Regions from separate parts of the Homo sapiens genome. Here all the other regions are reported to be linked to region 3. The links are microRNA targets in miRTarBase. Many come from high-throughput screens and were not tested one by one. Region 3 holds a microRNA gene; each other region holds the end of a gene's coding sequence.
What was found. The annotated mature microRNA hsa-miR-4468 reads AGAGCAGAAGGAUGAGAU and lies in region 3 at 3,878-3,895, shown strand. An mRNA with a match to its seed (bases 2 to 7 or 8) in the 3' UTR can be bound and repressed. Matches are read on the target gene's strand: a 7mer-m8 pairs with bases 2 to 8, a 7mer-A1 pairs with bases 2 to 7 and ends in A, and an 8mer does both.

Region 1: the mRNA of ST3GAL5 is a reported target of hsa-miR-4468. Seed matches in the 3' UTR shown: 7mer-m8 at 6,659-6,665.
Region 2: miRTarBase lists PARVG as a target of hsa-miR-4468. Seed matches in the 3' UTR shown: 7mer-A1 at 5,031-5,037.
Region 4: the mRNA of LUC7L3 is a reported target of hsa-miR-4468. Seed matches in the 3' UTR shown: 7mer-m8 at 3,609-3,615, 7mer-m8 at 4,819-4,825 and 7mer-A1 at 5,608-5,614.

The regions. Positions count from the first base shown.
Region 1 is chr2:85,833,171-85,840,998 of GRCh38, forward strand. ST3GAL5 (ST3 beta-galactoside alpha-2,3-sialyltransferase 5) reads right to left here. Exons shown (of 7, transcript NM_003896.4): 7 at 3,950-7,222. The coding sequence ends at 6,974. Among named protein-coding and RNA genes, the nearest start is that of ST3GAL5, 52 kb to the right of the region's middle.
Region 2 is chr22:44,205,043-44,213,000 of GRCh38, reverse strand. PARVG (parvin gamma) reads right to left here. Exons shown (of 14, transcript NM_022141.7): 13 at 7,172-7,244; 14 at 4,532-6,684. The coding sequence ends at 6,575. Among named protein-coding and RNA genes, the nearest start is that of PARVG, 28 kb to the right of the region's middle. RefSeq lists an enhancer at 7,862-7,958.
Region 3 is chr7:138,119,926-138,127,883 of GRCh38, forward strand. It overlaps MIR4468 (microRNA 4468), which reads left to right and starts at 3,833; the gene lies at 3,833-3,896. It overlaps LOC124901828 (small nucleolar RNA U13), which reads left to right and starts at 1,163; the gene lies at 1,163-1,266. It also overlaps the pseudogene RCC2P3.
Region 4 is chr17:50,748,973-50,756,802 of GRCh38, forward strand. It overlaps LUC7L3 (LUC7 like 3 pre-mRNA splicing factor), which reads left to right. Exons shown (of 10, transcript NM_016424.5): 10 at 1,529-7,247. The coding sequence ends at 1,689. Among named protein-coding and RNA genes, the nearest start is that of ANKRD40CL, 15 kb to the right of the region's middle.

The DNA of each region.
Region 1 (7,828 bases), not on the chromosome of region 3:
GTGTGATCTATGCTGCCATCTCTTTAAAATAACTTGTTGTATCTGTAAGATTTTTTTGGTAAGCCTGATGGTAACCACAATGCAAAAATCTATAATAGATTCACTAAAAATAAAAAGCAATGCGTTAAAACATACTATCAGAGAAAATCACTTACCACAAAGGAAGACAGTAAGAAAGGAAGAGAGGAGTTACAAAACAACCAGAAAACAAGCAACAAAATGGCAGTAGTAAGTCCTTACCTATCAACAAAAACACTGAATGTAAATGGACTCAGTTCTCCAATTAAAAGACATAGAATGGCTAAATGGATAAAGAAATAAGACCTGACTATATGCTGCCTACAAGAAGATCATTTCACTTCTAACGTGAAGGGATGGAAAAAGATATTCTATGTAATTGGAAACCAAAAAAGAGCAGGAGTAAGTAGCTGATATAAGTAAGTACTTACATCAGATAAAACAGACTACAGATCAAAGACTGTAAAAAGAGACAAAGAAGATCACTAATGATAAAGGGAATAATTCAGCAGGAGGAAATATGTATCAATATCTATGTACTGAACAACAGAGCTCTCAAGTATATAATGCGAACATTAACAAATCTAAAGGGAGAGATAGACTGCAATACAATAATAGTAGGGGACTTCAACATGCTACTATATGTGATGGACAGGTCATCCAGACAGAAAATCAAGAAACACTGGAGTTAAACTACACACCAGATCAAATTAGGCCTGACACTTACAGAACATTTTACCCAACTGCTGCAGAATACACATTTTCTTCATCAGCACATGGAACATTCTCCAAAACAGACTGTATATTAGGCCACAAAACAAGTCTCAACAAATGCAAAAAAGTAGAAATCATATCAAGTATATTTTCTGATCACAATGGAATAAAACTAGAAATAACAAGGGGGGCCTTGGGAAATACACAAACACATGGAAATTAACACACTCCTGAATGACCTAGGGCCAATAAGGAAATTAAGAAAATTTTAAAAATTTCTGGAAACAAATGAAAATGGAAAATGACATATCAAAATGTGTAGAATACAACAAAAATAGTACTAAGAGGGAATTTTATAGCAATAAATGCCTGTAACAAAAAAGTAGAAAGACTTCAAATAAACAACCTAATGATGTACCTCAAAAAACTAGAAAAGAACAAACTAAACTCAAAATTAGAAGAAAAGATATAAAATTCAGAGCAGCAATAAATGGAGACTAAAAAATAAAGAAAATCAATGAAATGAAAAGGTTTTTTTTTTTTGGCAAAAACTAAATTGACAAACCTTTAGCTAGATTAACTAAGAGAGAAGACTCAAATAAATAAAATTGTAAATGAAACAGGAGACATAACAACTGATGCCACAGACATACAAAAAATCATTAGAAGCTGTTATGAACAACTACATGCCAACAAGTTGGAAAACCTAGAACAAATGGGCAAATTCCTGGACACATACAACCTACCAAGATTGAAACCATGAAGAAATAGAAAATTTCAACAAACCACTAATGAGTCATGAGATTGAAGCCATAATAAAATGTCTCCCATCAAAGAAAAGTCTAGGACCTGATTGCATTATTGCTGAATTCTACCAAACATTTAAAGAAGAATGATGACCAATTCCATTCAAATGCTTCATAAAAATTGAAGAGAAGGGAATATTTCCAAACTCATTCTATAAGGCTTGCATTACCCTGATACCAAACCAGACAAAGACACAACCAAAAAAGAGAACTATAGGCCAATATCACTGATGAACATAGATGCAAAAATCCTCAAAAAAATACTAGCAAATGGAATTCAACAACACATTAAAAAGATAATTCATCATGATCAAATAGGATTCATCCTAGGGATGCAAGGATGGTTCAACATACAAATCAATAAACACAATATATCGCATTAAGAGAACCAAGAACAAGAACGATATGATTATTTCAATAGATGCTGAAAAAGCATTCAATAAATTAAACATGCCTTTATAAGAAAAAAACCTTCAACAAACTAGGTATAGAAGAAACATACTTCAAAATAATAAAGGTCATTAGCTATGAAAAACTCCTAGCTAATATAATACTGATAGGGAAAAACTGAAACCCTTTTCTTTAAAATCCGGAACCAGACAAAGATGCCCACTTTCACCACTTTTATTTGACCTACTACTCGAAGTTTCAGGGCAATAAGGCAAGAGAAAGAAATAAAGGGCATCAAAGAAAGAAGTTTAAATTAGTCTTGTTTGCAGATGACATGATATTATACTTAGAAAAACCTAAAGACTCCACCAAACAACTGTTGGAACTGATAAGTGAATTCAGTAAAGTTGCAGCATTCAAAATCAACATACAAAAATCAATAGCATTTACATATCCCAAGAACAACAATCTGAAAAAGAAATCAAGAAATCAATTTCATTTATGGTAGCTACAAAGAATACAAAATACCTAGGAATCAATTTAACCAAAGATGTGAAAGATCTATCCAAAGACAACTATAAAACACTAATGAAAGAAACTGAAGAGGGCACCCCAAAATGGAAAGATATTTCACGCTCATGGACCCGATGACATTCTTCACAGAAATAGAAAAAATAATTCCAAAATTTACATGGAACCACAAAAGACCCCAAATAGCCAAAGCAATCCTGAGCAAAAAGAACAAAGCTATAGGAATCACACTACCTGACTTCAAAATATACTACAAAGCTATAGTAACCAAAACATCATGGTACTGGCATGCAAAGACATCAGACCAATGGAACAGAATAGAGAACCCAGACCCAGATATAAATCCATGCGTTTATAGCCAACTCATTTTTGACAAAGGCACCAAGAACATACAATGGGGAAAGGAGAGAGTCTCTTCAATAAATGATGCTGGGAAAACTGGATAGTTATATGCAAAAGAATAAAACTGAACCTCTATCTCTCACCATATACAAAAACCAAAGCAAATGGATTAAAGATTTAAATCTAAGACCTAAAACTATGAAACACTCCAGGACATTGGTCTGGGCAAAAATATTTTGTGTAAGAGCTCAAAAGCACAGGCAACCAAAGCAAAAACAGACAAATAGAATTACATCAAGCTAAAAACATTCTGTGCAGTAAAGGAAACAATCAACAAGTCAAGAGACAATCCATGGAATGGGAGAAGATACTTGTGAACTATCCATCTGACAAGGGGTTAATAACCAAAATATATAAAGAGTTCAAACAACTCAAAAGTAAAAAACAAACTGATTTTAAAATGGGCAAAAGATCTAAAGAGACATTTCTCAAAAAAAGACAGAGGGCCAAGAGGTATATGAAAAAAATGCTTAATATTACTAATCATCAAGAAATACAAATCAAAACCACAATATAATCTCACCCCAGTTAAAATGGATCTTATTAAAAAGACAGGGAATGTAAATGCTGGCAAGGACGTAGAGAAAGGAAACCCTTGCGCATTGTTGGTGGGAATGTAAATTAGTACAGCCACTATGGAGTATTGCATGGAGGTTCCTCAAAAAACTAAAAATAGAATTACCATCTGATCCAGCCATTCCACTACTGATTATATATCCATAATAGTCTGTTTTCACGCTGCTGATAAAGACATACCCATGACTGTGAACAAAAAGAGATTTAATTGGACTTACATTTCCACATGGCTGGGGAGGCCTCAGAATCAAGGTGGGAGGCAAAAGGCACTTCTTACATGGCAGTGGCAAGAGAGGAGGATGCAAAAGTGGAAACCCCTGATAAAACCATCAGATCTTGTGAGATTTATGCACTACCATGGGAACAGTATGAGGGAAACCACCTCCATGATTCAAATGATCTCCCACAGGGTCCCTCCCACAATACATGGGAATTATGGGAGTAAAATTCAAGATGAAATTTGGGTGGGGACACAGAGCCAAACCATATCAATATCCAAAACAAAAGACATATTGAAGATATATCTATACTCCCATATTTATTGCAGCGCTATTCACATAGCCAAAACATGAAATCAACCTAAGTGTCCATCAATGGGTGAATGAATAAAGAAAATGTGGTATATATACACAATGGAATATTATTCTGCCATAAAAAGGTTGAAATCATGTTATCTGCAGCAAGATGGATGGAACTGGAGGTGATGTTAAGTGAAATAAGCCAAACACAGAAAGACAAATATCACATGTTCTCATTCCTATGTAGGAGCTAAAAAAGTGGATCTCATGAAGATAGAGAGTAGATTGGTAGTTACCAGAGGCCAAGAAGGGTAGGGGGAAATGAAGAGAGGTTGATTAATGGGTACAAACATACAGTTTGATAAAAGAAACAAGACCTAGTGTTTGATAGGTCAGTAGAATGCCTATAGTTTACAATAATTTACTGTGTATTTCAAAATCACTAGAATAATTCAAATGTTTCTACCATAAAGACAAATATTTAATGTGACAGATATCCCAGTTACACAGATTTGCTCCTTATAATTACACAAATGTATTACATTATCACATGGACCCTCAAAATATGCACATCACTATGTATCAATCAAAAATTAAAATTAAAAAACCCTAAAACTGAAATTTTCTGCAGCTCAAAGTTCTAGAAGCATGTTAAAATACAGAACATGTGTAAGTCTTCCTAAGTTGCCTCAGAACCAGTGATTTCATTTATGTCGGAGGGTGTGTGTGCGGGTCTAGAATGCAATACAAAGCTGTTAGTGTGGCAGTGAATTCTCAGTTACTGGAGATCAACTTTAGAACACCCAGAGGCACCTAGCAAAGGTCTGTTTTCAGAAGAGTGTGTGTGGGGTGGGGGAGTAATGGGGGCACAGCTCTGAAGTGAAGATGCAACTTCCAACAAATGAATGCCAAAGTGTGAAAAGTTCTTGAGAATGATCTCCAGCCAACTCCTATTGGCTGGTGGACTCTATAAAAGGTCTACAAAAATATACCTTTTTAGGGTATCTGCTTACCACCTGAGTAAGTAAAAGTTGAGAGACATGAGCAAAGCAACCTAAGGATGCAAGAAGGGCCTTACAGGGAGGAGGGATGGGGATGGGAGCAGGCCTGAGAATGGCTGCAAGCTGACCAAGTGGAAGCTTTGAGCACCACACATCCCAGCAGCCTTGAGAAGCAGGTAGGCAAGTCTCCTCATACCAGCAAGGAGGCGCTCGTAGCATTAAGAACGTTGTCTGAGGAAGTTCCGGCTTCTCCAATAACCCCCTGAGGGATGTAGGGGTGGAGCTGTGTGGTGTAAGCCCAGCACCACCTGAGCCACAAGGGAGCTGTGGACCATCTTCCAGAGTCTCAATTTTCTAAACTCATTTGATGGGTGATAATCTTAAAACATTTTCTCTTAAACAAGCAGTAGCTTATAGAGTAGGAAATAAAATTCATACAAAATTATCTGTAAAGACACAAAACGAGAGAAATATGACTTTTGCTCTCCTGGCCACTCTGAGCTGGATCCCAGACCCCAGGAGACAGAAGGGACTCTGCTTTGAATGCTATGACCTGACTCCTGGCCCTGCATATGGTGAGGAGGAGGGAGATGGGAAGACGTTCGAATGGGCTGGGGCCAAGGCTGCACTGGGGCTGCACAAGCAGTTGCAGGAAGGGAAAGTGGAGGCAGGTAGCATTAGTGACAAGAGCAGCCACAGAGTGGAGAACAGCGATGGCGGCAGCCGAGTCTGGGGCAGGCTGGGAACAGAGTAGCAGATCTTCTGATATCAGAGGCTAGAGCCATTAAGAGACAGAAGCTAGGGGCAGCCTGTCTTTGGGGAGGAAGCCACCGACACCCAGCATCTCTTCAGAAGGGTTCACAGTTGTCTGGACTCAAGCAGCTTGCAGGACCAGGTGCCTTAATTCTCTGTCCCTCACTACTGGCATCCACAGAGAGGTCTCCGCCTAGCAGCAGCATCCAAGAAGGAGGTTTTGGGTAGATTCATAGACATAAGCACCCAAATTAACCAGACTACGAGAGTTCCTCAAAAGTTTTTATTCTTTTTCATCTTTTTAAACTGGCACACTGCCTGGTATACACCGCCAGGTAGGCATTCAGAAAAGTTTCTTTTTTTTAAATACACAATTTATAATACTGGGAAGATTTCATTTCAGTGTTTCCCAAAACATTATTCCTGGAAAGGGTGTACTCTCCCATGACTCTGGATAATAGAAGTTTTGTTCTGATTTTTTAAGTCACCTCAGACAGACACTGGAACACGTTAGATCTAACACTTAAGTGCTTTGAAAGGGCAGTAAAAAATCCCCAAGGAATTCAAGAATTGTAATAATTGCTGGGAAGACTGTGGTTTCTGTAGCCCAGGGTGGCTTCACAGTTGTCAGAGGTCACAGATTCTATGTCCCTCTCCGACCAGGGACCTCCAGGACAGCTTCCCTGGTTGGTTCTCGAGTCTTTCAGCAGAAGGCAGACCAACAGAGAAGGGTTGTGACCTTCTCCAACCAGCCCAGGCCTCACGCCGCTGCATCGCAGACCCAGTATCAGCAGCAGAGCTACGGAGCACGTCATCCTGGGAGTGGATCCTCCGTGGGTCACACCAAGCAGCGCAGCAGGGAACCAGAATGAGGTTCAGGGCCACCATCAAAAGAGTGACCTCCCCTCTCCTTCCAATTAGTTACCTGTATTCAATGTGCAGTGTAAACGAGCAGAAGTTTTACAAATTAAATTACTTTCTTAAAAATCAATACAACATCGTTACATACAATTCTCTTTGAGAAGTCTTTCCAATTCAATTCTTAAGTTTCATTTACAAAATGGTGTGCAAAAACAAACACTGACCTCAAATAAATAGGAAAAAAAAAGTGGGAAGAGCTAAAATTTTTTTTGTGTTTTTAAATTAAAAGTTAAAAACATGAGCTGCACTTCAAAGTATCTGCAGGATGGAGAAATACATCAAGAAGGCTGTCAAAAACAGCTCTCAGAGTTAGAGTTGCATTTTCAACTGAGGTTTTCTGTGTTCAAAATTCACGATCAATGCCTCCACTGAGATCTTTCACCACTCCCTCTTTGACCAGCTTTAAGAGGAACTTGGTTTCCGTTGTCACATTATGCATGGTCTGAAAGTTCATAGCAGCCATGCATTGACTGTCGAAGTAGTGCAAAGGTGTTCTGGGTTGATTGAGGTCATATCCAAAACCCGCCAAACTGACTTCATCGCACAGATGTGTGGCTAAGACAACGGCAATGACACCGATTGTGGGGACGTTCTGAGAAAGGGAAAAGAAGACCAAAAAGTAAAAAAAAATTTTGGCACAAGTCACCATTTTGCTGGTATTACACATGCTACGCAGAGTCATGAAAGCTACATTGGGGGCTGCAATTTCATACATCACATAATTTTATACATCATGAACTTTAGAGTCCAACTCTCCATTTAAGTCAGGAATCTAGGCTCTAAAACATGGTCTGTGATGTTCACACACTTTCAAGGGGCAGCCTGACAATTCTTACACCAAGTTAAAAGGTATTCCCCTTCTAGGCCAGGTGCGGTGGCTCACGCCTGTAATCCCAGCACTCTGGGAGGCCGAGGTGGGCGGATCACGAGGTCAAGAGTTTGAGACCAGCCTGGCCAATATGGTGAAACCCTGTCTCTACTAAAAATACAAAATTTAGCCAGGTGTGGTGGCACACGCCTGTAGTCCCAGCTACTCAGGAGGCTGAGGCAGGAGAATCACTTGAACCCAGGAGGCGGAGGCTGCAGTGAGCCGAGATCGAGCCACTGCACTCCACCCTGGCGACAGAGCAAGACTCTGTCTCAAAAAAAAAAAAAAAAAAAAAAAAGGCATTCCTTCTAAAATGTCTACCCCACTGGT
Region 2 (7,958 bases), not on the chromosome of region 3:
TGTAAAAACCCACCTAGGTATTAATGCATCACCTTTCTAGGTAATAATAAACCAACCCATATGAAATGCTTGTGGATAAATAAATGAATTCATGCAATTGTTGGCCAGCCCAGGTCCATTGGCTGACTCTTCTTGGAAGAATCATTTCTGGAACATCTTCATCATCTACTTTCTTACCAGCCAGGCCCCTCAGCCCAGTCCCCCATTGACCTAGGGGCCCAGGACACTCCCTGGGCTACACCCCCAGGGGGTGGGGATCCCATGTGTCTCTAGGTCCATGATGCCCCTCTGCTCACCACTGCCCAAGTCTTACAAGGAAAGAAGGCTGGTGGGGCAGGGATGGGGGTTGGGATGGCACTGGCAGCTTTGATCCATTGCCAGAAGATATGGGGGCAGGAACACACTTTTCTCTAGACAAGCTGTTCGCTTACCAGCTGACTTTGGTAAAAAGAAAAAAAAAAATCTTAGTTCCATCTGTTCCCAGAGTGGAGCTGGTGTGAGTCCTGGGGCTTCCTGCAGCTCAGGCGGCCAGACCCAGTTTCAGACTCCAAGACAGCTGCCCTCTGGATTATTTTGGGAAGCAGCTCAACTCCGAGGCACCCCAGCCTTCGAGGCATTTCCCTTCGCTTCGAAGCTGTTTGCACACCCAGCCCAAGCTGCCAGCTCCTTCTCTGGCCCTGGACGCCTTCCTGTTCAGCTTGCTATAATTATCCTGCTTCCAACTTCGGCTGCAACTTCTACTGGAGTCAGATTTCTTGGGATGGAGGAAGAGAGAAAAAGAGCGAAGGCCATGGATAGTGAAATAAGGGGAGGAAAGGGCTCCCTGATCCTGCTTCGTCTCAGACTTCTTTGTGGGAACCACTTCTTCCACCCACCCCCAGGCACCCAGGGCCCCCAGGCATCCACCTTGTCCCACGGTGAACCCTCTTCCCCACTCTCTTCTCAAAGAATGTCCCCACTCCTTTTCTGAATGACAAGTTCCTGGGGCAGGTGGGATGAGGGCATCTTGGGCAGAGGGAACAGCATCAGAAAGACTTGGAAAGATCGCAGAGATGTCAGGGATATAACTGGAAGCAGTGTGGAAAGGTTGAGGCAGGGACGGAGACAGAACACAGTGAGCAGGAGGACCACAAAGCCAGCAGCACCAGAGCACCCAGAGTCCAGACGCTGCCCGGAGGTTGGGGCCTGGGAAGGTTAGAGCAGGATGGTAGTGAGACTGGGTTCCGAGGACAAAAGCACTCTGGCTGCTGGTGCAGAAGTGAAGTCACAAGAAAGAAGTCCCTTTCTTGCGAAAGGGAGGCCAGCTGGAAAGTTCCAGAGTGAAGATTAGGGAACGGGGCAAGCTCTGACTTGGATGTGGTGAGCTTGGGGTGGGCACCCCAGGCACAGCTATGCCCTGGGAAGTTCAAAATATAGATTAGGTCAGAAAGTAGAATAGTGGTTGTTAGGGGCTAGGGGCTAGGGGAGGAAGATGGGGGTAGTTATTGTTTAATGGATACAGAGTTTCAGTTTTGCAAGATGCAAAGAGTTTTGTGGTTGGAGGGTGGTGACAGTTGCACAATAATAGGAATGTACTTAATACTGCTGAATACACTTAAAAATAGTAAGATGGTACATTTTGTGTTATGTGTATTTTACCACACACAAAAAAAAAAAGAAAAGAAAAAAGAAAGAAATGTGGGTCTGGAGCTCAGGGCTAGAGCTGCAGTGGAGATTGGAGAGTGACCCTTAGGGAGGAGGGACAGGAATTTTAGAAGCAGAAGGCATCGCCAGGAAAGCTGTTTGGAGTGGGAAGGACCAATACTGAATCTATTTCTGTAGGTACACAAGCTCACTAACATATAACCAACACTACACAAAATGATAAAGAAAGTCTTTTAGGCAGGAAGAAAATGATACCAAATGGAAGAAGAAACGATGAGCACCAGGAGTAATAAGTATGTGGGTAAATATAAAAGACTTTCTTCTCAATTAAAAAAAAAAAACTCTTTAAAAGGCAATCGATGTGGCTGGACACTGTGACTCATGCCTGTAATCCTAGCATACTGGGAGGCCAAGGCAAGTGGATCACTTGAGGCCAGGAGCTGGAAACCAGCCTGGACAACATAAGGAGACCTCATCTCTACAAAAAAAAAAAAAAAAAAAATTCTAAAAAAGTTAGCCAAGTGTGGTGGTGCATGCCTGTAGCCCCAGCAACTGAGAAGGCTGAGGTGGGAGGATCAATTGAGCCCGGGAGGTCGAGGCTGCAGTGAGCACTGCAGTCTGGGTGACAGAGTGAGACCCTGTCTCAAAAGAAGACAATTGACATTTTTAAGCAAAAATAATATATTGTGAAATTTATTCTATAGAAATGAGACACATGACAACAATAGGACACAGAAGAGTAAAATGGAAGTAATATTACTTAAAGGTAGACTGTAATAAGTTAAGATGTTATAGTAGATTAAATGGTGACCAAAAGGATTTGTCCACATGCTAATCCCCAGAACCTGTGAATGTTAACTTCTTTGGGAAAAAGGTTTTTGCAGATACAATTAAATTAAGGATCTTGAGATTAGATAATCATGGAAAAAAGTTTTTGCAGATATAATTAAATTAAGGATCTTGAGATTACATAATCGTGGATTATCTAGGTGGGTCCTAAATCTCATGACAAGCGCCCTTATAAGAGAGACACAGAGGAGGGATAGACAGAGAAAGGAGAAAGAAGCAAAGTGACTGTGAAGGTAGATATTAAAGTGATGCATCCACAAGCCCAGAGATGCTGGTAGCCACCAGGAGCTTGAAGAGTCAAGATACAGCTTTCCCTCTAGAACCTCCAGAGGGAACGTGACCCTTCCAACACCTTAATTTCAGACATCTAGCCTCCAGAATTGTGGGAGAATAAATTTCTGCTGTTTTAAGCCAAGAAGTTTGTGGTAATTTGTTACAGCAATGACAGGATATGAATGCAGATGTGTATATAAAGTCTAGAGCAACCCCTAGGAAATGAAAATAACGAAATACAGTTGGTAAGCCAATAATGGAAATAAATTCACATCGCTAAAAAGTCTTCAATCCAAAAGGAATAAGAAAAACATATGAACAAGGCAAACAGCAAGATGGCATTAATAATTCCATTAAATGTAAATGGACTAGAGGTACCTAGAATAGTCAAATTCACAGAGACAGCAAGTAGAATAGTGGTTACCGTGGTCTGAGGGAGGGGAGAAATAGTGGTTACCATGGCCTGAGGGAGGGGAGAATGGAGAGTTAGTATTTCCTGGGTGCAGAGTCTCAGTTTGGGTCGATGAAAAAGTTCTGGAGATGGATGGAGGTGATGGTTGCACAACAGTATGAATGTACTTAATGCCACTGAATTGTACACTTAAAATGGCTAAAACGGTTAATTTTGTGCTATGTATATTTTGCCACAATAAAAAATGTAAGTGGACTAAACCCTCTAATTAAAAGGCAGAGGTTTCCAGATTGTACAAAAAGACACAATTATTTGTGTCTATAAGAAACCTACTTTAAACAGACGCAGTTTAAAAATATAGAAAAACATATACCATGCTAATACTAACAGAAAGTTTGAGTGGCTATATTAATATCAGACAAAGCAGATTTCAGAGTAAGAGATATTACAAGGGATAAATGAGACAAAAGGACATTATAATCTTATATGAGGTATGAAACAAAAATTGATAGAACTGAAAGGGGAAATAGTGAAATGTACAGTTACAGTTGAAGATTTTAACACTTCTGTCTTGGTAATTGACAGAAGTAGTAGAGAGAAAATTAGCAAGGATATAGAAGATCTGAACAACATAATCAACCCACTTGACCTAATTGACATTTATGAAACATTTTGTCCAACAACAGCAGAGCACACATTCTTTTTCAAGTGCATACAGAATATTTACCAAGATAGACCATAATCCAGTACATAAAACAAGTCATAATGCATTTTAAGTGATTTAAATCATACAAAGCATGTTCTCTGACCACAACAAAACCCAATGCCAAAAGATAGCTGGAAAAAAAATCCCAAAATATTTGGAAATTATACACTTCTAAATAACCCATGAGTGAAAGAGGAAGTCACATTTGAAACTAGAAGATATTTTGAACTTCATGAAGGTGAAAACACAACATATTAGTATCTGTGGGATGCAGCTAAAGCTGTGCTTAGAAAAAAAAATCCAGCATTAAATATTTATATAAAAGAAAAATATTCTCAAATCAGTGATCTTAGCTCCCCAATATTTTTAAGATGTCAGTTTTCCCCAGTTTGATCTAAAGAACACAATTCCAGTCAAAATTTCAGCAGGCTTTTTTGCAGAAAATGACAAACTGATTCTAAATTTTATGTAGAAACCAAAAGAATTAAAAAGACCTAGAAAAACCAAAATAATTTTTGAAATGAAGAACAAAATTGGAGGACTTATTTTTGAATGTACTAAGGACATGAGTTGTTGATACAAGAAACAATGGAGATACTCTCAATAGCATTATGCTAAGTGAAAGAAATCAGACACAAAAAGCAACATACCATAGGATACAGTTTATAAGAAATTCTAGACAAGTCTAAATGATGGTGACAGAAAACAGATCAGTGGTCCCCAGGGCCAGGGGCTGGGAGAAGGGAACTGGCTGCAGACAGATGCAGAAACTTGCATGGTGATGGGAATGTCCCATGTCTGGATAACGATGGTGGTGGTTATATGACTGCATGCATTTGTCAAAACTCATCAAATTGTACACTTCAAACTGGGAAGTTATTTTTCAATAAAGCTACAGTAATTAAATAAGTCACTTTTTTTTTAATTGCTGTCAAATAGAACAAGAGTGAGGACGTGGAACAGCCAGGCAGAGCCAGCCTGCAGCGGATGGGGCCCAAGCAAGTGAGGACTCAAAGGCCCCAGGAAGTGGGGCTGGATTTCAGGCTTTTGGGATGAAGCCAGCTGAGAGAGGCTGAGCCTGTGTCCCCAGAAGCTCCAGGAGAGGATTTGAGGTGCTGGAGGGGGCATCGCAATGGAGGGGGCACCTGAGCAGGTGGAAGGAGCTGGGCTCCAGGTACCTGGTGTGGGAGGATGCACGTTTCCCAGAGGCAGCCGGGAAGTAGGGTGGGTATCCATGAAGAGGGGTGCATCTGAGTGCTCACGTGGAACACGCTTATGGGCTTGGGTTTGCCCTGTGAATTGGGAGCTGAGAAGGGCAGGCAGATGGGAGGCTAGGTGAAGGGAAGACCCCTCAAGGCCTTCTCACACCCAGACACCAGCTCCCAGGGCTGACCTGGCACTGCGTCCCTGGCTCCCATCTTGCTCCCCCGAAGGACATCTGCCTAGGCGCCCCCAGTGGGTGTCAATGATGACCTAGCCCCTAACCCCCATCTAAAGCCCCTCCCCAAGGCCTCAGCTGTCAAACTGTGAAAACCCCAGACCCAGAGGCCTCTTCAGGGTCCAGGGAGGAGCAGCAGCCTGGGGCTGTGGTTGCCCTTCTCCCCAGCCTCACCCCTCCCCACAAGTCCCACTCCTCCCCACAAGTCCCACTCCTCCCCACCAGGCCCCAGCCCTCCCCACCAGCCTCACCCCTCCCCGCCAGCCTCACCCGTCCCCACAAACCCTCCCCTCCCCGCCAGCCTCACCCGCCCACTAGCCTCACTCCTCCCCACCAGTCCCACCCCTCCCCGCCAGCCTCACCCCTCCCCGCCAGCCTCACCCCTCCCCATCAGTCCCACCCCTCCCGGCCAGCCCCAGCCCTCCCCACCAATCTCACCCCTCCCCGCCAGCCTCCTCCCCGGTTCCCATCAGCCATCAGCTCTGCCCCACTCTGGATGCCCTGGACTGACTATGTGCAATTCTCCCACACGACTCTTCTTTATGTGCAGAAAATGCCAAGTCTCACTGGAGCGAGTGGGAACCCACAGCTCCCGAGGACAGACTGGAGATGACCTGAACCCACTAATCAACCACGAAGATTGCTTCTTTGTGACTTTTGGGCAAAACTCACGAGGGCAGCTGCAGGACACAGCCCGGGTTGCTTTGACAGTCACTGAATCCACTTCTCCCGGTGGGTGGGGGCATGGCTATGGAGCCATTCGGGCTCCTGCCCTGGAGGGTGACTCTGGGGCCCATCCTCCCGAGTGAGAAGCAGGTGGGTGTGGGGAGCTGGGCTGGAAAAGGTGGGGTCTGGGGCTGTGGGCCCTGTCCCTGAGAGTCCCCAGCCCTGAGTGATGCCACCTCTCTGGGCGGTCACTAGCCTGGGCCCAGAGATGAGAGACTGATGTGACACACACTCACCCCATGGGAGGGAGGCTGCAGGTTTAAGGGCCCTCCTCAGGACCCTGTCAAGTTCCCAGAATCCCTCCCAGAAATACTTTTATTAAAATAAACTGAGCAAGGCCAGGCGGCTCAAAATGATCCACACAAGGGGGTTCAAAGATAATCCAACGATGGAGACAGGAGACAGGGTGGGAGGGAAGCGGGTCACGAATGCACAGGAAACAGCGGGACTGTGGGAGGACACCCTGCAGCCTCGGGCCCTCCAGCTGGGCTGACAGGCAGGCTCTGGGCTTTGGAGGCAGTGAGGGTCAATTCGGGGCTCCATGGGGCGTCCTGTCCCTGTGTGCCTTCTGCGTGTGCTTGCAGAACAGACCATAGAGCACCCTCAGTGTGCTCTTGGCATCCTTGTTCACGATATCTGCGGGCCAAAGGAGGGCAGGGCAGCCAGTCAGGCCTGGGTGGCAGTGACCGACTGTCCCGATGTGGTCAAGGTTTCCTGGCATTCAGGATTTCAGTGCTAATCCCAGGAGAATCCCTGGAAGCCAGGACAGCTGGTCACTCCAGGCCTGGGTCCCGCGCCTGCTGCGTGACTGCCTCCTCCTCCTGGCCAGTCCTCCTCTGAATGCTCCTGTGGTGCCCCCAACACAGCAACTCCTCAAGGTCTGGCTTCTCTGGACAACCTGTCCCCAGAGACCTTGGTCTCCCCCTCCCCAGAACCTCTTCCCCTGGGGCTGCAGTGCCCCCTCCCAAGAAACCTTGGCAAGCGCCCATTCTCCACCCCTGCCAGGCAAGAGGACTCTGCCAATGCGTGCTCATCCCCCAATGCCCTGCACCCTGTTCTGTGGCTCTCGCACAAGGCTGCCACCCAGGGCTGGCCACCGTGTGGGCATCTGCCTTGCACTCACCTTCAGGGCTGACAGGGCAGCTGAGCAGGCCCTCGTCCTTCAGCAGCTCCAGCGCCAGGGTGACGTTGTGCAGCTATGATGACAAGGCCCTATCAGATGTGGGCACAAGCAGCAGCCCCAGGCCAGGCCTTGGGTCCCAAGTGCCAAGCCCTTCCTGTTGTCTGTGATGTCCATCATGAGCCTAAACTCCCATCCAAGGTGGGCATCCCTGACCACGACCACAATCCGTGGTCATCCAGCATCTCCCTACAGCTCACTCTGTCACACAAGCAATCCATGTCTCATTCCTCAGCCACTCACAGGCCCCACTCTGAGCAGGTGCTATACCACACTGGGCACACGCTTGCGTCCAGGGGCCACTGCCCGTGAAAAAGGCAATCGCCAAGGAGGATACCCAATAGGGATCAGGGAAGGCTTCCTGGTGGAGGTGAAGCCTGGTGGTGAGTCCCGCCAGGCAGGGAGAACTACCCAGGGAAAGGAGCAAGGGCCTGGGGTGGCAGAGCACCTTTGAGAACAGCTGTTTCCCAGGGCAAAGCACAGTGAGGAAATCAAGGCTCAGAGGAGCCAAGGGGCTCACTGGAGCTCACGAGACAGAAAGCGCTCAAACCAGGTCTGTCCGCTCCAATGCTCATGCAAAGCAGGCTAGAGACTGGAGCGGTCCCCACCCAGGTGGCTGTCCTTTCCGCCACCCCTTGCCTGGGGTGCAGTCTCAGAGATGGCTCCCTTTAGGGTGGAGAGCGCCCGGGCATCAGTCAAGTCCCCCAGTGATTCAGAGCTCAGCTTAGTC
Region 3 (7,958 bases):
GTGAGCCTAGGAGTTTGAGGCTGAAGTGAGCTATGATCATGCCACTGCACTCTAGCTTGGATGACAAAGCAAGACCTCATCTCTTAAACATAAATAAAATAGGGTCACTGCATATGTAATTAATTAAGATGAGATCATACTGGGGTAGGGTGGAGTAAGGTGAACCCTAAACCAATGAGACTGTGTCCTCATAAAAAAGGGAAATTTGGACACAGACAACACACAGGGTGAATGTCATGTGAAGACGAAAACAGAGATCAGGGTGATGCTTCTACAAGGTAAGAAATGACAAAGATTGCCAACAACTACAAGAAACCAGGCAAAAAGCATGGAACAGTTACACCTCAGCCCTCAGAGGGAATCAACATTGCCAACACCTCTATCTCAGACGTCTAGCCTTCAGGACTGTGAAACACTACAGTTCTGTTCTTTAAGCCACCCAGTTTGTGGTACTTAGTTATAGCAGTTTTACAAAAGAAAACACCATCCCTCAGTAAGGATTTCCTGTCTCTCCAGTTAACATCGGCTGTAAAAATGGCCTTGCCAAATCAATGCTTTACTGAGCCCAAGTATTGACAACCAATAATCTTGATCTTTTGGGGACTTACGCAACCCCAAAAAGATGTTTGTTAACCCAAATCAATTTTTCTTATCAATGGCCTCTGATCAGCTATGTAGAAAGATCCGTCAATAGTGATGCAACCTGCCTGAAAAAGGAGAGGAGACCCACGGCATGCCATGCTCACTGGTCCACAGAAACATACCGGGCTGGAGCGGCAAGGACATCCTGGCCCAGTGCACAGAATGTTTCTGGACCTGCAGTGTTTCTTGATAAGACTGTTTCTTTGCTGGGTACAATGGCTCACGCCTTTAATCCCAGCACTTTGGGAGGCCGAAGCTGGTGGATGATATGAGGTCAGGAGTTCGAGACAAGCCTGACCAACATGGGGAAACCCTGTCTCTGCTAAGTACAAAAAAAAAAAAAAATAATAAGATGGGCATGGTGGCATATCCCTGTAATCCCAGCTACTTGGAAGGCTGAGGCAGGGGAATCACTTGAACCTGGGAAGCGGAGGTTGCAGTGAGCCGAGATTGTGCCACTGCACTCCAGCCTGGGCAACACAGTGAAACTCCACTCAAAAAAAAAAAGGAATGTTTCTTGATCTTTTTGTAGTTCATGAGCGTGATGACTGAGTGTTCATGTGCATGTGTGAGGCGTGCCACCCTTAAACCTTGTTATAACATCAGCACATTACCCACATGACACGAAAAAAAATGTTTCTTATCCCTGACAGTTCTCCAAGAGGGCCTCCTTCAGGCATTGTCATTCCGTCCACAGTAACAACACAGCACCAGGAGAGGCCATTAGAGGGGCATAGGCAATGATCCTGTCTTCAGCCTTCAACACTTTGAGGTGTGTGCATTCTGAAGCCACAGTCATAGGGATTAACAAAGATAAACAAACTCATATTTCTAAGACTTGATATTTCTCAGAACTCTCAAAATTTCAGGCTTCTGCTAACTTCAATGTCTTCTTCTTGAATCAGAATCCTCCCTGAATCCAAATAGTAGCCTTAATGTTTCTGTCTCTACACATGAAATCCCCAAATTCTCACTTTAGCTTCTTCCACCCTAGTCTCTGCCTCCCATTCATGAGAAACAGGATGAGAGGGTGATGCCCAACTAATAGGCTTACTCTCTCATCTAAAGGGCATTTTGGTAAAAGGCTTTTTCTGTTGGGTCATATCTCCTCTGGCAGGAGCTATATCCCCCTGGCTTCCTATTTGGATTCTTCAGAATCTCGGCTTGAGCTCCGGCTGCCCTCCCTAGATGTACTAACTGCCTAGCTTGGGGCAAAATTCTCCTTTTGCACAGCACGTGCTTGCCTGATTCAGCTCAAAGCAGATCAGACTTTCTTAATAAGGCCACATTCTCTTCCCTCGTTGCCTTCTGCACTCCAGGCTTGAACCAAAACTTGGTTCCTTTATGAAGGACTTCACCGAAGGCCACAGGAAGCATCCAGCACAATCTTCTAACCCAGCACCAAAGCCTGAGCCTTGGCAGACACATGGTCCAAGTTCCAAAATATAAGTTACACTTTAAGTGAATCTGGTGAATGGGCTGGAGCCTTGGTCTGGTGGGGAGTGCTGGGGGGTGCTGGGGAGGAGAGGAAGGGACAGGGGTGTAGGGGGAAGCCCTTCTATCCGTCTTTTTTTAACAGTTACTTCTCTTCCTTTTTCTGTCTGGTTTCTCATAACTCCAACCAGCAGAGACAAGCCCAGGATGAAGACTGGGCAGTAGCCTGGGAAGAACCGGGCTTCGGTAACCACAGGGGCCCCAGGCGGCCCGGGAAGCGTGGAGGTCCCAGCGTGCGGGCAGAAAGCCCAAGAGGCCGAGCGCTGTGGCAGCTCCATGGGGCCCTGGCGGAGGCAAGGGCACAGCGTGGCTGGCTGCATATGTGAACAAGGTGAGCGGCGGGGCCGCGGTCGTCGCGGAGTCTGAGCACACCAAGGAGCGCATCAGACTTCAAGGGTCGAAGTGCAAAGGGGCAGTTTTTGATTTCGGGGTCAACCAACTAGGACTCGATGGGTGGAAAAGAAGTGCCTAAACAGCAAGCTGCTTACCTCAATCTCGGTCAGAATTTGTGGGGGCCCCATAGATGTGGGTGCCTGGCGGGGTCCTGGTGCGGACAGCGGTCTCGGGTTTGCGCACTGCGCACAGTATCCTCATCACGACACGATGGAAGCTGCGGAGCTGGGGTCAAAATAAGAAGGCGCAGCTGGGACCTGGTGACACCAAGAGAATGGAAGCCCCCAGACTCATTGCGGGTCTCTGCCGGGAAGTGAGTATGTAGGCAGCCTGTGGGCGGAACCTCACCTTGGCCTTGACGGAAACGGGCTCTGCGTTTGCCTTTGGGGAGAACAAGATGGGGCAGCTGAGCCTCAGCAACCACGCAGGAGCATCCCCAGCACCGCACAGATCATGGACAACGGGCAGCCAATTACTAGAATGGCCAGTGGAAATGAATTCCGTATAATGGGCGACAAAGGAGACCTCTGTTCCTTCGTGTGCCCTCAATGTGGTCAGCTGGGACCCAGGCACAGTGAATAGTTAAGGCTGTGAGCTGGTGCTGGTGCCACGATGAGTGGCCCACCTTCACTGAGAATGAAAGATGGGTAGATTCTGCCTGTACCAAAGGTGGTTGTGAGACCCCCAGAGCAAGGCAGGGACCCCTCCCCATTTCCCTTACATGCTGTGCTGACTGAAGCTACATTCAACCTTGCAGCCACACAACCACAAACGTTTCCTTTCACAAAATAGACCAATCAAATCTGAGACAGAGTATTCTGAGCACAAGCATCTTGGCTAACAGTGGGCACTTTGCAAAAGATGCTCCCCAATGCACTTGCCCAGTAATGTCCTAGCCTGTCCTAACCTGGCCTTTGCTTCATTTCAGTAGTAAAAAGCACACCCCTGGGTGGAGATTTAAGATGCTAATGAGACATGCATCACATGAAGAAGCATGTCCAGAGACTGCATAGGTGCAACTGCCAAACCACCCCAAACATGCAATGATGTCACATGGAGGAGCTCCAAAGCAAATGAAACCCCAAACTAACCTGCAGTCAGGGAGCTAGCTGCAGGTCTCTTCCTGCTGCTACCTCCCCTTCTGCTCAAGCTGAGAGCTCCAATAAACTGCCTTGCTCAAGCCCATCTCAGATTCTTGGTCTATTTCTATTTACTAAGGGTCAAGAACCCACCAGCCAATAACGGTTGTGTAAGACGTGACCTGTAATGCTAACCACACATTGATTCTGGACTCCAAGAAATGAGTCTTCTCCTGGGGCTTTGGTGGCTATGGTTGACTGGGCCACTCAGAGCAGAAGGATGAGATGGTCCCCGCTTGGTGAGGTTGGAGTCTGACTTCCTTGGGTGTGGGGCATCCCAGATCCATGTTGGTTACACCTGGTCCTTTGCTGTCTGTGAAGTTGGTAGTCTCTTTTTCTGGGGGAGCCCAATATCTCCCATGAATCTTCCATGTACCTGAAAGCAGTGCAGGACCTCTGCGGCTGCAGAATCCAGAGCCTGGCTTGTGGGAAGAGCAGCAACATTGTGGCCGCCAATGAGAACACCATCAGCTGAGGGCCATAACCAACCTTTAGGTAATTGGGATACAGGGACCATGAGCCCAAGTCTTCCACTGCAGCCCAAGAGGTGAAGACTCTGAATGGCATCTTTTCAAAGCAGGTCTCCATAGGCTACTCACACTCCTTGGTGATAGTGCGAGATGAAAGTGAGACCAGGAAAGAGAAGATCAAGAAACTGCTAGAGCCGGTTGCGGTGGCTCACTTGTAATCCCAACACTTTGGGAGGCCGAGGCAGGCGGATCATCTGAGGTCAGGGGTTCGAGACCAGCCTGGCTAACATGGTGAAACCCCGTTTCTACTAAAAATACAAACAAATAGCTGGGCATGGTGGCACATGCCTGTAATCCCAGCTAATCGGGAGGCTGAGGCAGGAGAATCGCTTGAACCCAGGAGGTGGAGGTTGCAGTGAGCCGAGATCACGCCATTGCACTCCAGTTTGGGCAACAAGAGTGAAACTCCAACTCAAAAAAAAGAAAAAAGAAAAGAAAGAAACTGCTAGAATACAACCCCTGAACCCTTTGATGCTCCTGGGGACTCCTGCAACTCCACCCGTCTCCCAGAAGCTGTCATTTCCTGTGCAGTGGGAGGTGAAGTCAAACAAGGAATTTTAAAAAGCAAAAGTTAGCCAAAGTTGCATTTTTGTTAGACTCCCTGAGGTTCCATTTTTACAAGGGATCCAATGTTAATTATCCTTTTCTGCATACTTTTAAAAGTCTGTTTTTTTCTCTTCATGTTTAATTAAAATATTTGCTCATATTTGGAAAAAATATGAATTGTTATAAAATAGTGGAAAAGATATCCAGACTCCCAGTGAGGACTGTGTTTCCCATTATGCTTCACCCAAATTAACTCAGTCAATTCTAACTTTCAGGAGTATTCACTTGTTATGCCCCACTTCCACATAGCGATTTTTCCATCAGGATGTTATTAGTTCCTAGTAATAGAAATGCAATTCAGACTAGTTTAAGCAGAAATAGTGAATTCACTTTGTCACAGAACTGGAAACAAAGAAGTGCAGGGGTAAAGTGGCTGTAAGCAGCTAGAACTAGGGCTCAAGCAGTGTGTTTACAACTTGTGACTGTTTTCACCCCGTTGGACTAGCTGTCTCCAGACAGCAGGCATGAAAGCAGGCAAGATAGCTCTCAGCAACACTCTCCTTCACTCAGATTAGGAACCCAGAAGAGAGTGAGAGTCTTTGGTAATAGCTCTGTCAAGGAAGTAATCCTGGGAAGAACTCTGACTGGCCAACATGCATCATGCTGGAACCAATGGTGATGGCCTGGGGCAGACTGAATGGAAGGGCCTGAGACATAAACTCATCCCTGTGCAGAGAAGAAGCAAGAGAGGAATGAGAGAGACAGTGGGAGGGGGATGGAAAGGCAAGAGGGTAGGAGCGAGTGGAACAAGAGCAGCACTAAGGAGAAAGGAATCATAAGGAACTACAATCCTGCCTCAATCACCAGAAATACGTTGCCCCAAGAAGCAGGCAAAATAAGAGATGTCTGCAACAGGGACTTTCAGGGCGTGGAGATAAATAAAATTTAAAAGCTATTGGAACCCCCCCCAGAACACATTAAGCCCTGAGTGAGATGTGACTATGATCTGAGTCACACATGGTTACAACTTCTGTTCTCAGATAGATTAACTCACTTTCTTATTTTTCTTGTTCTGCACAATGACTAGAGTGAATTCAACTACACCACAGATAAATGCCTCCTGCCTTCTTCATTAATGGCCCTGGTCATAGATTCACTTCCCCTTTGCTGCCTCACTTTGCTTAGACCAGATGACAAAAAACGCATGACTATTACACCCTCTGTGAAAAGTGTTAAATGTCCCCTTCCCAAAAGGAAACACTGCCTATAACCAATCAAATTGCTGTAACTATGCACCAACCTTGTGTAAATAGTGTTGTAATCCCACTAAAATCTCTGTCTCTGTCTAAATAAATGAAATCTTAACTTCCCTACTTCAAAATGCTGACTCCATTCCTTTGGAGTTGGTGTTTCTGGGTGGTCCGTCCTCACTGTTTGAGCTTGAATAAACTCTCTTTAAATTAGATTCTGAACCTTTTGATTATTTTAGGTTGACAGGAGTTTTGGAGTACTAGGTTTTAGCTTCCTGCTTCCCTCACTTCAGATTCCCAAAAAAATGATATAGTAGAAATCTCCATCAGCACTGAAAATTAAGAAGGTTGCTGCCTATCAGAGGGTGTAAATGAGAAGAAACTGTCAAAGTATAATTTTTTACAAATCAGGCCGGGCATGGTGGCTCACACCTGTAATCCCAGCACTTTGGGAGGCCAAGGCAGGCAGATCACCTGAGGTTGGGAGTTCGAGACCAGCCTGACCAACATGGAGAAACCCCGTTTCTACTAAAAATACAAAATTATCCAGGCGTGGAGGCGCATGCCTGTAATCCCAGCTACTCGGGAAGGCTGAGGCAGAAGAATTACTTGAACCTTGGAGGCAGAGGTTGTGGTGAGCTGAGATTGCGCCATTGCACTCTAACCTGGGCAACAAGCGCGAAGCTCCATCTCAAAAAAAAAAAAAATCAAAAATATGATTTTTATGTAAATACAAAATGAGTACATACCAGTGATTTAATTATCTCATTAATGATGGAAACAGAAAAACGGTAAGAGAAATACCAAGAGAATTGGAGAAAGTAAAATGTTTCAGCAGCTGAAAGAAAGGATGCTTGGATCAAATTGCTCATTTAGCTCCAAACCAGTTTAGCCTTCTGAAAGGCAATACAACTATATAACTTTTGAGTTTATCTTTTCTACCAGATTTAATAATTTATATCTCTACAATAAAAGATCCATTTGCATTGTTATTGGACAAGAATCATTTTCATCACTACCAGGTTTCTATTAGTTAATAACTACTCTTACAAAATTGTAAATTACCCTATTAAACAGTTCACTCAGCTGACCTGGGAAATCCAAACCCTGCACCTTCCAAAGAAAGGTCTGGCCATTAACCACTTATTGGGAGATAACCTCTAAGCCCTTGGAATGTCATTCCTGAGAAGAATGTCTTTGCTTATCTGGGGCTTTGGGCCACACTAGACAGTTTATGCTAACAATGTGATTTATGAAGGGGGGTGGGGAGGCAGGTGGCTACATGATGTCAGTTTGACTCCAAAGGGCTGGAGACTGAGTAACTAAGGTCAGCTATGTGGGCACTCCAAGCCTATATGACTGACCCCCAATAAAAACCCTGGATCTAGGGCCGGGCGTGGTGGCTCACACCTGTAATCCCAGCACTTTGGGAGGCCGAGGCGGGCGAATCACAAGGTCAGGAGATCGAGACCATCCGGGCTAACATGGTGAAACGCTGTCTCTACTAAAAATACAAAAACTTAGCCGGGCATGGTGGCGGGTGCTGGTGGTCCCAGCTACTCGGGAGGCTGAGGCAGGAGAATGGTATGAACCCGGGAGGCAGAGCTTGCAGTGAGCCGAGATCGTGCCACTGCTTCCAGCCTGGGTGACAGAGCGAGACTCCGTCTCAAAAACAAAAAAAAACAAAAAACGCTGGATCTCAACGTTTAGATAAGTTTCCCTGGTTGACAATACTACTTACGTGTTGTCACACATCACTGCTGGAAAAGTTAAGCACTATCTATACAACTCCACTGAGAGAGAACAAGTAGAAATTTGTGCCTGGTCTCTCTCTTGGACTCTGCCATATTGTCCTTTTACCTTGGATAATAAATCTAAATTCTTTTTCTATAATAAACCATAACTATGAGTAGAACAGCTTTTCTGAGTTCTGTGGTTCCTTCCAGCAAATTATTGAACCCGAG
Region 4 (7,830 bases), not on the chromosome of region 3:
GTGTGAGCCACAGTGGGCATTTATTAATGGCAAATGAGAAAAAGCAAGTTTATTACTCCAGGTGCTATGATAGAAGCAGTTTATCTTACTCCACAAATGAAAAGTGGTTTCTCACACAAAGCTGTCAGCAACCAGTGTAAGGTGCTCTCTTTGTCAAGAGAGTTTCCTTTTTTCATCCATAGCCCTAAAATCCACCACAAATTGTGGATGTCCTTAGGACTATTAAGATCTACCATATTTACATAGGGCAGAAGATAAGATTATTGGACTGACTACTAGTCCTCTACGGGACAACAAGACGACTCTTCCTCATTGAAGCTACCTGTGCACCGGAGAAGCCCATAAGGCACAAAGGGAGGACTTTCCCACAAGGTCAGTTAGAGCCCACTGTCCTGGCACAGTTCTCACAAGTGGACAGACAGACATGAAGCAAGTCTTGCGCTTAACTACTTGGACATTGCTTTGTGTATTATGCAAGTGTTACGGACTAAATATGCTCTTTTACATAAGATCTTCAGTTCTCTGAGTGGGTGCCCCTCCCATACCATGTTTTGTTTTTCATTACCATCTCTTTCCTAGATATTTGGTGTTACGTCTTCATAACTGTGCAGAAACTATGTAGAGGGTTCTGTTTCTCTTAAAATGTCTTTTTGTCTAATTAACTACTCTGCCAGACCAGCTATTCTTAGTAAGGGGAAAAGTAATTTTTCCAGAAAGTTTCTAGTTGGCTTTAACATTTTCTGTAGAAATTTTTTGTTGGGGGAATACTTGGAACTGAAAAGGCTAGACTATGCTTGCTCTGGTGTACTACTTTTACCTCTAGTCTGAGGTCTTACCCATCCAAAGAATAGTAGAGGAAAAAGTTGTTTACCTTTTTCATTCTTCATTTGCAGCTGAGTTGAATTTTAATTTCTCTTTTTGGAAAAACAACTCTCAGATGGCATATATATTACTTTTCTTAGCAAAGCACAAAAGTTCAGTTGCTTAGATTGGGATTTAAGATCCATTTTCTTTGATTAGGCTTATCCTTCTTGGATATTCAAATATATATAAAAATAATGTTTTGCATTGAAAAATATGTAGTTGTAGTTTTTAAAACATGCCTGTTATAAACATTCAACTTTTTTTCACCTTTTGGGGTCTCCATTTTTACCCTTCTAACTTAATAATTGAACCTCATGTGAACATAGTTTTGTATGCTGTCTTTTATACCTTTCCCAGTGCTTTTTGATGTTTTTTACCCACAATGAAATTTACTTAAATATTATATTCTGCAATGTGCTTAATAGCTTCTCACCAATTGAGAGAATTTACCCACTATTTTACCTTTTGCTTCCTTGAATTCCCCTTCCTGCCTTCTCTCTCATATATTACAAATTTTATCCCTTTGGTAAATTCACCAAACCGTTGCTTGCAGTCTGTGGGAAATGATTGTCTCTCATCTCTCAGTTGTTTCACTTTTTTTCAAAATCATGTCTTTATTGTATTTTACTTTAAAATCCATGGTCAATGTCTTCTTTTATGGCAGAAAAGAGGGGATCTGATGATAAAAAAAGTAGTGTGAAGTCCGGTAGTCGAGAAAAGCAGAGTGAAGACACAAACACTGAATCGAAGGAAAGTGATACTAAGAATGAGGTCAATGGGACCAGTGAAGACATTAAATCTGAAGGTGACACTCAGTCCAATTAAAACTGATCTGATAAGACCTCAGATCAGACAGAGGTAAGTGTATTGTTTCTCACTTTGATTAGGGCTTTTTGTTACTGTTTGACAGTGCAGCGTAAGTATGCACAGATGAAGATGGAACTAAGCCGAGTAAGAAGACATACAAAAGCCTCTTCTGAAGGAAAAGACAGTGTAGTCCTGCAAAACATTTTGAGGTACATTGTTTTGTCTCAGCTATTTTGTAGCAGACTCGTGCCCCCATTAGTGTGCCTCTTTGGAAATTATCGCCCACATTTGTAATATAGTCGCCATTGAAAAGTTAATTATCCTTTTTTTAGGGATTTTGATGTCATTTCTTTTTTTTTTTTAATAAAAAGGTTGAACTGTTTTTTTTTTTCTTTTTGGTATTAAGTCCATCTTGTGTTGGTACATTGGCAGAGACATATGCTTTAAAAACTTAAATATTTCGGAGGCACATGTTGGACTACTTTGTTTTAATTAAACTGCTAGTATTTCTTTGTCAAGGATGTTTCTAGTTTTTTGCTTTATTGCCTTGCATTCTAATGCAGTTTGTTCTGTAACTCGAGAGCCAGTAGCATTGGATTGATGGAAGTGTAGGGTTTATGAATTATTGCAGCTGACTACCATACCTCACACAGCGTTGGTGTTGTGAGCGGCCCATGAAAAGCCAAATTAAAAATCAAGGATTCAGTCAAACTAAGCAGGTACTCATGCCAGGTACTCCTTTCTCTACCCACATCCATGTTTGAATGCTATTGCCTGTGATCTTTACGCTTAACTGTTGTGTATCTTTTTTGTTCTTTACAAGAAGTGCAGAGGGGTTTTTTGTGTATTGCGTGAAAACTTATAAAACAAATGTTAACAGAATGGAATTTTTTTTCAACTGTATGTAGGGCTGCAGTGGTGGCCAGAATTAGATATCTTTAAAGAATTTTAAATACAATAAACACTTCATATTATTCGCCTTGTTACACTCAATGCAATTCTCAAGTCTATAAGAGGTATGTGCTTAATATTTCCTACTGTGTAGGAGAATTTGCAGTCAGCCATAGGTATGTAGGAATAGTCACTCACTGGCTGATACATTTAAAGCAGCAGTGTGAATAGCAAGGACAGACACCTTCAATTTGTGAAATCAAAGAACTGATGCACTATATAGAACGAATTTGGGTTTTTAAAGAAATATTAAAAGTTAGGTACTGTAAGTGTTCTTAAAACCTGTAAACTTCATTCTGTGGGCTAGTGGTGTGGGACAAAATATTCCTAATGAAAGGAAGTACCAATTAGTTGATTTGTTGGTGGCATTCCCCTTTTGGGAAAGCAATGTAAGGTTATGTCTGTGTATGTCATTCACACTTAGGCAAGCATACACAGGCACATGGCTTTAAGAACCACACTGATGCCTTGATAATTAAAAAGAATACAAGCATTCCATGTACACATGTTAATTAGCAGTTAGTGACTGGGCCAACACTTTCTCATAAAAATTGGCCTTTTACATGTTGTCTAATTATCATTTTTCCCCAAATTTTGCGTTGTAGGACTACTGTTCGAAGATTTTTGGAAGAATACTGAGAACGGCATAAAGTGAAGATCGACATTTAAAAAATGAGGTGAAAGAAAGCTATAGTGGCATAGAAAAAGTATAAAGCTCAGTTAGTTTTTTTATTATTATTATTATTAAAAGTTAATTCAGGACTGATGTGACCTACCAGATTTCAGAACATGTGTTAATAGTATATATGCCACTGAAAACTTAGGTCCTGTATCATACTTTTTTCTTTAAGACTTTTTAAGAAATATTACTTAAACATGTGGCTTGCTCAGTGTTTAATTGCAAGTTTTCAATCTTGGACTTTGAAAACAGGATTAAACGTTAGTATTCGTGTGAATCAGACTAAGTGGGATTTCATTTTTACAACTCTGCTCTACTTAGCCTTTGGATTTAGAAGTAAAAATAAAGTATCTCTGACTTTCTGTTACAAAGTTGATTGTCTCTGTCATTGAAAAGTTTTAGTATTAATCTTTTTCTAATAAAGTTATTGACTCTGAACTAGTCCCCTGTTTTAAATACAAGAGTTACACTATTACTAGAGGTGTTGGTGTACAGTTTTATCTGATTTGTTCTGTTTAAGACTAATTTTTATAGACTTTCTAATGTTTTAAATAATGGTGCTTCAATTTTAGGTGGTTATGAATAAATTTGAATTTTGCTTTTAATAGCAAAGATGTGCAGTGAACTAGAATATATTTTTACATCCCTGAGAGATTCATTTAGTAGAAAATTCCAAGTATCCTGACAAGCACTCTTTAGCTGGCTAGCTATGGGATGATGTAGAAAAGCATTCAAGAGCTAGTTTTTGTTAAGTCCTGTATCAAGATTAACCCAGCTGTGTCAGTTTATAAATGTATTTGTGTATAGGGTGTGTAGTATATATGGCAAGGGTTTTTTCCCCCCACTTAAGTGATTATTTTTGTGTCACATCTAGGAAAACCGGCAGCATGTTTCTATCTATAGCCAGCTTCTTCGACTGTATAAAAGTATTCTCTCCAGCTACGTATATACACACATACATATATATCATAGCAATTCCTTGTGGTTTATAACTTGCAAATACTGCTATCAGTTTATAGGTAAAGAAACAGTGTGTTAAATGACTTATCCAGGGAGGGTCCTGTGGCTTCATGTTTATGGAGTTGCTAGGTCTCTGCCTCATGGTCCAGTGCCTGTTAAGCCACTGTGTTCATTCTAATAGGCATAATGAATTGTTAAAGAATTTACTAAAATCTCTTCCACCAAACTTTGAAAAATAATGAAGCCGCCCCCACTTTAGAGGCTCTGTATGAAAAAATGCTGTGGAGACAGAGCCCTCCTGGCTCCCTAGCTGATCCTGGAGATGCAGCAATAGATGAATGGGTTATCTCTGAATTTGTAAGAGATAATTCACATGAGGATTAAGATAAAATGGGAAGTAAAATCTAACAAACACAAAGATAGCTCCCAGGCACTGCTTTGTGTAGTTTGACAGCATTGTGGTTGTAGCAGCAAAGGACTTAAAGTGATAGTTTTTAAACCATATTCTGTCCCTAAGTAATAAAAAATCTAGGAAGTTACTAAAATACCAGATTTGTTCTGCTCTGCCTCATCTAGAATCAACGTCTAACTAACTTAAATGAAGTATAATAAATGAGTTCATATGAAAAGGCTTCCTCTATGGACACTTAGATATATTGTAACTATTGAAGTTACCTGGGATGTGGGGGTGGTGGGAGGAGGACCTGCCTCCCCAGGACATCTATGACTAAGGCCTGGCTTTAGTTATGGAGAGAGACGTAGAAGTTGAATTTTACACCCAAAATTGATGTGACTGAAGAGGAACTGATTGTTGCTAACCAGCTCACAAGAATCCAGTATTGAGACCAGTTCACTAGAAGAAACAAACATTTCTGCCATGCAGACCAAAAAGTTATTAGTTGGTGAATATGTATTTTCTCTTTGGAAGGTCTTTAAGGGGAGCAAACCAGTTTTAATCAATCAGATTGCTTGGTAAGTTTGGAATCTGCAATCAGTTGGTCTTAAAAAAAAAAAAACTTTATTTTGGAAATTTAAAGACATACACAAAAGAGGAACAATATAATTAACCTCTGTTAACTCATCACCAACAAGACTCATGACCACTTTTATACTTCATGAGTGATTGTATTTGTATCCACTGTTTTCTATTATTTTCGAGCAAGTCTCAGACACACCATTTAATCTGTAAATAATTCAGCATGTATCTCTAAAAGACAAAGACCTCTTAAATAACAGTTCATTAGTATAAAACAAATTGGGTAAACTTTTGTTGGTCATCAAACTATATTAGCACTGGTCCAATAGTTTAATTTTCATTGAGCCTTTCAAGAGGACCGACCAGTCTGCTGCTCAAGACATCCTCTCCTCTGGAATGTAGAGATAATACATATCATGCTCCTTTTTGTTAAAACGTTTTTTTTTCCCCTTCAAACACAGTCCATTCATTTTTCAGTTTGGGTTGAAACATCCTTTTCTTGATCTTGAGCTTATAATAACCTAGTCATATTGCTCAGCTCAGATATTTTTACTCCCTCTCCTTAGGCATTCTGGTTCCTTAAATATAGTTAGTGTCACAGAGGATAAATAACCAACCTTATTTCTAAGGTCTGAGAACACTTGGACCACATATTGGTTGAGCTCAGCCACCTTCTGATTAAAGTTTTCAGACTTGTAAGAACTGAAAATTTTTATGGTGGAAGTTCTCTGAGCCCTCATCCATTCTGTTTTTAAAAATGCATTGCAGATGGGCTATGTGAATATGTTTTTAAACATCTGATATGTGCATGAAACAAAAAACACTTGAAGTTATTATGTATACAATTCTGTGGGATGGGACTTCATGCAGGATTGGTTTTCAAGTTTGATTTCCTGAGGGATTTTTTAGTTGTTTGTGAAAGAACCCCAGGTCTACTTTTGAAATTTTGTATTATAATTGTAATGTTGCCCATGGTTAAAAAAAAAAAGTGTTCAGTGATCTATGTCTCCTACTACTCCTATTTCTCTGTTTTTCCTCTGCAGGAGCTTGCTGCTGTTAACAGTTATTCTTCCAAGTTGTTTTCTTTGTGGGGAGATGGGAGGTGGGAGGAAATATAAACATATATGTATAGATCTTTCAAAATATATGACGGTATACCCGTATGTTCTGAGTCTTGCTGTTTTTACCTGGTAATATTTAGAAACATTTATTTTGAGATAAAGGAGAGCACTTTTAAGTTGAACCTGTAGTTTTAAAAAGTACATTTCAAGTAAGCCAAAGCAGAGAAGTAAATGTATTTTTCATTGTTGTATCAGAATTTTGAATTTACTATTTTAAAAATTCAAGAGTTTTGTAGCTGATCTATTTCTTCCCCTCAGCCATCCCAAATAGGTCATTTGTCAACAGATTTAAGAATGTTTAGAAACAACAACTTTGGGAAACGGGAAACAATTTGGTATAAGTGGGTGTGCCATAACCTCTCTCGTAGCCATTCATTCCCGGATACATACCCTAGAGAAACTCTTACACATGCGTACCAGGGGATGGATTTAAGCATTTGTGTGTAATAGGAAGAAAAGAAGAAAAAACCCGGGAAGATCCCAAGTGTCCACCAACAGTGTGTTGGATAAATACTGTGGTATATTCCAACAGTGGAATTCCACAGAAGTGAAACTGAACTGCAGCTGTGTATGTGAACATGGACAAAACTCAACAATAGAAGGATCAAAAAAAGCAAGTCACAGAAGAATACATCACTATGGTTCCATTTCAATGAAAGTCAAAAACAGGCTGTCAAATACATGATAAAAGGAAACGATTAAGACAAAATTTAATGTTAGCCGTTTTGATGGAGGGAGAGGTGATCATGAGGGCACAGGGGTCTTCAGAAGAACTGGTGAGGGTCTGTTTCTGAAGCCTGTGGGCATTTCCTTTTTTAATCTGTATGTTTATGTGCTTTTGTATGTATGATATTTCTTAATAAAATTTAAAAAGAAGAATGGGAAAAAAGTCTTGGTGTAGGTAGTTACTAATATATAAGCTGTAGTGTATTTCGTAAAATTAACCATCAGTCAGTGACAAATTTAAAGATGCTGTTTCTTGAGTGCCCAATTTAAGGTTTTATTTTGTTTGAGACAGGGTCTCTGTCTTGTCACCCAGGCTGGAGTGCAGTGGCACGAGCTCAGCTCACTGCATCTTTCGCCTCCTGGGTTCAAGCCATTCTCGTGCCTCAGCCTCCCAAGTAGCTGGGATTACAGCTTCGCACCACCACACCTGGCTCATTTTTTTGTATTTTTAGTAGAGTGTTTCACCATGTTGTCCAGGCTGGTCTCAAAACTCCTGACCTCAAATGATCAGGCCCACCCTGGCCTCCCAAAGTGCTGGGATTACAGGTATGAGCCACCGCGCCCAGTCTTCAAATTGAGGTCTTAATTGTAACTCTTAAAAAGCTAGAAACGGCGACAAGAGCAAGACTCCGTCTCAAAAAAAAAAAAAAAAAAAAAAAAAAAGAAACCTAAATGTATGTTTTCTGTGTGATACCTTATTTTCATCTTAACATAGTTTCTACTTGTCTGCCAGCCAGGGAGCTGAT